Homo sapiens: one gene and its partner. The protein of the gene in region 1 interacts with the protein of each later gene in a pairwise test. Each region holds a gene or a part of one and is shown on either strand. Other genes may lie near its edges.

Region 1 (3,827 bases):
GCTTTCTCTTTTGTTGGTGAGAATGAGTGGCTTCTTGCTCCTAGCTAGAGCCAGTCCTTCCATATGTGCTTTAGATTCTTCCTGTTTTGTTCAAGAATATTGCTCAAGCTATTCTTCCTCCTGTTTCCTGCATCAGCATTTCCCCTCTCTACTAGATCATCTCTGTCAGTAAATGAACATGTTGTTGTTTCTCCTAGAAGTACTGTTTCTATATCTAGATAGTACTCTAGCTAGAGTTAAAAAAAAAAAAAACAAAACCAACAAACTCAAAACTCTCTTCAGATGTTACTTCACCTCTTGCTGTTACTGCATTTCTCTACTGTATGTTACAGCAGAATTCCTTTTAAAAAATGTCCACGTTCACTGACTCTAGTTTTTTATTTCTCCTTGTCTCTTGAACCCAGTCCAGTCAGGTGCCACCACTCCACTGAAACTCCTGTTTTTTTTTTTTTTTTTTTTTTGAGACAGAGTCTTGCTCTGTTGCCCAGGCTAGAGTGCAATGGCACGATCTTGGCTCACTGTAACCTCCACCTCCTGGATTCAAGCGATTCCCGCCTCAGCTTCCTGAGTAGCTGAGATTACAGGCGCCTGCCACCATGCCCGGCTACTTTTTGTATTTTTTTTTTTTTGAGACGGAGTCTCTCTCTGTTACCCAGGCTGGAGTGCAGTGGCTCACTCGGCTCACTGCAAGCTCCACCTCCCAGGTTCACGCCATTCTTCTGCCTCAGCCTTCCGAGTAGCTGGGACTACAGGCACCTGCTACCACACCTGGCTAAATTTTTTTTTGTATTTTTAGTAGAGACGGGGTTTCACCGTGTTAGCCGGGATGGTCTTGATCTCCTGACCTCATGATCCGCCTGCCCACCTTGGCCTCCCAAAGTGCTGAGATTACAGGCGTCAGCCACTAATTTTTGTATTTTTAGTAGAGATGGGGTTTCACCATGCTGGCCAGGCTGGTCTCAAACTCCCGACCTCATGTGATCCACCCGCCTCGGCCTTCCAAAGTGCTGGGATTACAGGCGTGAGCCATCATGCCTGGCCTGAAACTGCTGTTTTTAAGGGCACTACTGATTTCCACATTGCTAAACCCAGTGACTGTGTCTGATCTTATTAAACTTATAAGGAGTAAATGAATAAATAAATGGGCAAGGTGGAGGTGAGGTGGGAAAGTTTGTTGAGTACACTAAAAATAGTAACTACCATTATTTACTACTGTTGAGGGAAATCTAATAGTGTGGGACTGGTGCAAAGGATATAGAAATAGGCAATAGGTTTTAGGATACTTTGGGGTAACTGATGCTAACAGTTTCTTATGGATTCTTTTGGAATGTTCTATAAATATACGAGTATATTTATCAACCCACCTTCAGTTATTTTTTTAACCACAGAAAAGTCAAAAGATCAGTACACTGATAAACGTGCGTTTTCCTTATCTAGATTTACCAACTGTTAACATCGTGCCACATTCACTTTATATCTTAATATTACCCACACTTTCCTCCTTTTTCACATCTGAAAGTGGGCTGCAGATAATATGAAACTCCTAAACACTTCACCATGTATTTCCTAAGAATGAGGAAATGTTTATTTTTAAAAAGCATCAATTCATTTTAATATGCTTTATACTTCAAAGCTAACATCACAGGGTTCTTTTTCACCTTCTTGCACCATATGCTTGTATTTCTCTTCTGCCGCTATGAGAATCCTGATTCCCAATAACATCCTTTGTTTTTATAGGCTCACTTCAGCAGCTCTGTTGGAAATAAACTGAAAGAGGGGCAAGGGCAGAAGCAGGGAGACGTTTTGGAGGCTGTTATAGCAATCCCCATGAGTTACAATAGTAGCAGTGGAGTAATGAGAAGTAGTTGGATTATGGATATGTACACACACACACACACACACACACACACACATACACACATATATATACATACATTTTAAAATTTTGAAATAGTTTGAAATCTATAGAAAAGTTTTAAGAACAGTGCAAAGAACTCTTGCATGCCTTTTACACAGACTCCTCAGTTGTTAAATTTTACTGCATTTACTCAATTTCTCTCTTTCTCCCTTTCAAGAGAGAGAGATGTGTTGACCCATCACCTTTAAATACTGTAGTGTATACTCTCTATCCTCCTGCCTCCCAAAAGAAGGCCACTTTCCTCTATTACTACCCTATATTTCTTCCAGTCAGGAGATAAACATTGATACAACAGTGTCATCCAATTCAAAGACACCATTCAAAGTTTGCCATCTGTTTCAATAATGATTTGCTTTTCTAGTCTAGGATTTTACTTGCAAACACTCATTGCTTTTACTTATCATGTCTCATCAGTGTCCTTTAATCTGGAACAGTTCTTTAGTCTTTTCCTGTCTCTAATGTCCTTGACAGTCTTAAAGAGTAGAAGTCTTTTATTCGACAAGATGATCCTAAACCACTAAGGGGTTCCTTGGAAAAATGACCAATTCCAGGGCTGGGAAAGTGCAGGGAAAGTGCAAAATAAGCCTGGAAAATCTTGGGCCAGAAATTCTCAGCAAATGAACATGTTAAAAAGAACAAAGGCCCCAATATGAATGAACTCCCCGTGGTCAAATCTGGGAAAATTTGGCATCAGAATAAAATGAGGGTATACATTATAGTGTAAATACTATGCGATGTTCCTATGCCATCATATCATCCTGTGATATAGTCACATGATCACTTGGTCAAGTTGGTATCTTCTAGGTTTCACCACTGTAAAGCCACTGCTTCCCATTTTGTATTTTATTGCTATTTTGGGGGAGATAATCTGACATAACACCAATATCCTTTTCTTATTAAACCTCTAACCACGAGCCCTAGCCTCATTAATAACCCCAATCTATATCAGTTACCACTCTAATGGTTGCCAAATGGTAACTATCTAACTCTATCATTCTGTCTATCATTCTATCATTGTTGATTGACATTGCACTATAAGAACCAACCTACCTACCTACCTTCCTTCCTTCCTTTGTTCCGTGATGAACTCATTGATTCCTTTTTTATTTGGTGGTTGGTAAACCGCTACTCTCATTTTATTCTGATGCTCAGATTTTCCCAGATTTGACCACTGAGAATTCATTCATATTGGGGCCTTTGTTCTTTTTGACATATTCCTGTCATTTGCTGAGAATTTCTGGCACAGCAAGATTTCCAGGCTTATTTTGCACTTTCCCTGCTGCAAGCCCTGGAATTGGTTATTTCTCCAAGGAACCCCTTAGTGGACTTCTGTTTGGTGGAAGATGGTATTTAGTATCCAAGATCTGGTCACCCAGTATTTTCATTGCTACTGGGATGTCATTGCTTCTAGGACCTCTTAGCAGACAGAACTAGGAAATATATATACATGTGTGTATATATATATATATGTGCATGTGTATATATGTATATATGCATAATACAAACATCTGCATATGTGTGTACATATATATATACTTCCACAGCTATCTGTATGTGTTATATTTTAAATGAGTTTATTTACTAATACTTCTAGTTCTAATCCAACATCTTAGGATTCTTTTAGTCTCCCGACTCTTTCCATGCTCTTAAATCCTTTCTCAGACTGTGAGAAATCTGACTCCAATTATTTTAGTAAAAGGCAAAAGATTCATTCGTTCTGAAGAGAAACCAGAGCATTCTAATTATTTTAGATATATTCAACCATTTGCTCAGTCACCTAACATATTTGTTCAGTATGACCACTCTCCTAACCACTCAGCCTGCGTTTTCCATCTGCTACTCCATTCCCCCTCCCACTGGGCTGGGGCATGCTGGCATCTTTGCTGGGCAATAGTCTCTCCCACACCAT
Region 2 (3,827 bases), on another chromosome or scaffold:
TTCCTGAGAAGCATGGCTTGTGTGGTTTGGAGTCAGTGGGGGAGACAAGAGATCTGTTGGAAACGAGACCCAGGACAGGCTGACATCTTAGCTCCTTTAATGCTTTATTGGTGAGAGCTATTACTATGCTCATTTTAAAAGGGAGGGACCTGGGACCCAGAGAAGGAAAGGACTGTCCCAGGTGTGAAGCTGGTTGCAGCAAAGCCAAGGCAGAACCCCTGTTTCCTTCATCCTGTAGGCCAAAGTGTCTCTACTTATAATTGACACAATAAAGCCAGGGCACCACACACACACATACGCACACACACTTGCGACTGTCTTACACTTGTACCACTATTTTTATGTAAACCCGGGTGTTCTTGTTTAAATAGGCACTCTCTCATTGGTCTAAAAAATAGTTAACATTGATATGAACTTACATGTGCCAAGAACCACGTTAAGCTCTTTGCCTGGTTCTCGTATTTAATCTTCATAAGAACCTTGTCAGGACTACTATTACTCCCTTTAACAGATGAGAAGACCGAGGCGCAGAGAGGCTGCACAACTGAACCAAGACTCCACACCTGCTGTAGTCAGATGAGGCCACAGTTGAATTCCTGCAGTCTGGCTCCTGAAGGCACCTGAGAGAATGTCCTGGACTCAAACACAGGTACAGAGCATCTCTAACAGCTGTAGCCAGATGCATATCAGTTGATGAAAAGAGCATGGCTTAAGTAACTTCAGGATTAGAAACTTGTAATACCAGTTTCTCCTAGGGCTGCAAGGAATGATTTCCCGAATGCCTACTGAGGACCACAGGGGCACCGCAGCTTCCACGGTGCCTTGTTTGCTTATAGATCATGTTCGTTACAAATGGTAACCAGAAAGAGAAAGGGTTTGGGCAGCTCTTGGCTGGAGGTGAGACCGTGGCCAAGCCCCCTATCTTAGTCCCTTTGGGCTACTATAAAAAGTACTATAGACTGGGCAGCTTATAAACAACAGACAATGATTTCTTAGAGTTCTGAGGCTGGAAGTCCAAGATTAAGGCCCCGGCAGATTTGGTATCTGGTGAGGCTTGTTTCTCATAGACATAGCCTTCTCTCTATGTCCTCACATGGTGAAAGGGGTGATGGGTCTCTCTAGGGTCTCTTTTATAAGGTTACTCATTCCATTCATGAGGGCTCTGACTTCATGACCTAATCATCTCTCAAAGTTCCTATTTCCTAATACATTGCAGGCAAGGATTTCAACATAGGAATGTTGGGAGAAACACACACGTCCACTCCATTGCAGCTCCACTTGCAATCTGTACCATGGCCATCATCCTAGGCACCACACAAAACCATGAAGAGAGTACAAGATAATTACAAAGTAGATGCTCGAAGCATAGCATTTCACTCTCCACACCTGTGCAAATTCAGGAGGAATCAAATCCATCATCTCAAGGGAGTTTCTGTCCAGAAAGGAACTCCTGTAAGGGACTTTGCACTGGGTCCTAAGTCCCACTCCGCCCAGCTGGCCTCCTTGGCGAGATTGGTCTGCGTTGGAAAATGGAACTGCCACAATCAAGTGGAGCTAAGCTTTCAGCACTACAATTCCACAGGACAGTCCTCCTCCTCCTCCTCCTCATGAAGAATAGAAAGAATGGTGGATTTGCATTCAGAGAAAACAGCTTGAGCCCATAGCTCTGCGGCAAGAGGCATGCAGCTGCTGGCTGACGTCTTGGAGTCTCTGAGTCTGTTTCTTTACTTATAAAATGGGGCCGCAAGCTCATGCAGGCAGAGAGCACTTTGGACTGTAAACCTGTGTCTAGCAATTATTATTATTGATGCTACAAAAGACAGGCAGAAGCCTCTTCTCCTGAGGTAGCATAAGAGAAAAGGGAGAAATTTTCTACAACAAACAAAGATCAAAATTCAGGGGAAAGCCTTGCTCCTCTGCTGACATGAAGGAGGAAGGAGCTTTGTGCAGCTGTTTCTTATTCATTCCCTGTTTAATAAACAATGCTCTGTCAAAGTAGATTCTTGGCCAACAATTATCCGTGGAAAGGAGCCATAGAGAAGTTTGTCTTGGTTTTCAGTTTTCCTCCCATGGAAAGATGCTACTTCCACTCATATCTCTGTAACCATGCTGTGACCTTAGTTAATGCTGGCTGGAAAAATTCATAACTTGAGCAACTTCCAAAGACAAAAAAGAATGCCAAGGACATGAAACTGATTGATATTATTCCATTTTAGTCCTGACCGTAGACAATTCAAATAGTTGGAATGAGGATGTGTGTATGACTGGGGATCCTTTTTTCACTTGACATTTTTCCTTTATGCCTAATTACAAGGTGCAGAATTTCCTTAACATAACGCTCCTATTTGCACTTATTAAGGGCTGCTGAGTGGGGATTTCACCGTGTTCCTATGACACCATCCATCCCCACTTTGCCTGTTAGCTGTTTGCTGTTATGGGCAGCACCGTCATGAGTAGATGCCACCCCACCATCACCATATAGGTCGCACCTATTGGGTCTGTCTCTCAAAGATATTAATTCCCCAGTGGAATTGAGACATGTGAGTTGTACAGTTCTTTTTGCGTGTTGTCAATTTCTTTTTGAAAAACTGGAATGATACAGAAATGTCACCCACCATCAGGCATTGAGCATAGACACTCCATCTCTGTAAGCTTTGCTCCTTCATTCACATTTTAACTTTAAACCTTAAAACATTCAAATTTTATTATTTTCATTCATGGTTGCTAATTTTGAAAGTTTATATGATAACTACTAGGTAATTTTAACTTTTCTCCTTTGTTTTCATTTTATTGAAGAGTTATGTCAGAAGAAACTTTTCAGAAATCACCCCCCCCCTTACAAATTTTTTCCCTTATTTTTTCTCAATTCTTTCCCCCTTTCTCTTGCAGTCACATTAATAGTTCACAAGAGATCATAACCATCTGCCTTTGCTATTGGCTTGAGACAATTCGAATTATGTTCTAGTTGGTTGCTTCTTTTCATCATAGTCATAATATCCAGTGCCCATGACATGTCCTGGTTTACCGTCTATTACAAACACAGGACACCTGCACTGTGAATCTATTTAGTATGCTTTGGTACACTCTTTGGGGAGTCCTTATGAGCCAATTTGGTGGTAAATATTGACTTCTACATTCACAGTGAATGCTTCCCTATTCCTCATATTGAACAGCTGCTGGCCTGGGGCCTGGTGTTGCTAAGAAGCCTGCACTTGAGGTGCCCCCCTCCAAGAAAAAATCCTGAGAATCTGTTGAACTTTGGTTGCCACATCCTATTGTCCAAGAAACCAAACAAATCAGCAGTGCTCAAGCTCCTGATAAGCTCGTGGTATACATTATCTCACTGAACACGCTCACAACACTGCCAGGCCAGTAGAGTTATTGCTGTTTAACTTGACCACAGCCACACAGCCAGTAAGTGAAGGAGTGGGTGCTGGTGTTCTGAAGCCAGCATTTTCCTAACACACCTTTGGCCTGGGAATCCACTTACACCTCCACTGTCAGCTGCCTGTGTCCTCACCATGGCCAGAGATGAGACCACAGGACTCTAAACAGGGCTCTCACTGGGGATGGGGAAGGTGGTGCCTGCAACCCAGAGTGTGGTCCAGGGCTCCTGCCTGGTTCACTGCACATGAGAGAACAGGGGAATGTGGCTTCGGGTGGGAGTGCTGAGCCCGCAGACACACGTCTGCCTCCACCCACCTGGGCTGATCCCAACAGAAACAGGCAGAGGCTCAACAAACTCTGCTGCCCTCCATGCCCCAAGAGAAGTGCCTCTCCTCTACCTCCTCCAAAGCAGAAGAAATGTTGAATAGTTGCCATATACA

Evidence for each region.
Region 2: the proteins of ATF6 (region 1) and DDC interact in a two-hybrid assay, tested with the Homo sapiens proteins (one large-scale study listed by BioGRID and IntAct).

The regions. Positions count from the first base shown.
Region 1 is NC_000001.11:161,772,525-161,776,351, forward strand, and holds part of ATF6 (cyclic AMP-dependent transcription factor ATF-6 alpha), read left to right. Parts: exon of another isoform or gene 1-91; intron 92-3,827.
Region 2 is NC_000007.14:50,555,251-50,559,077, forward strand, and holds part of DDC (aromatic-L-amino-acid decarboxylase), read right to left. Parts: intron 1-3,827.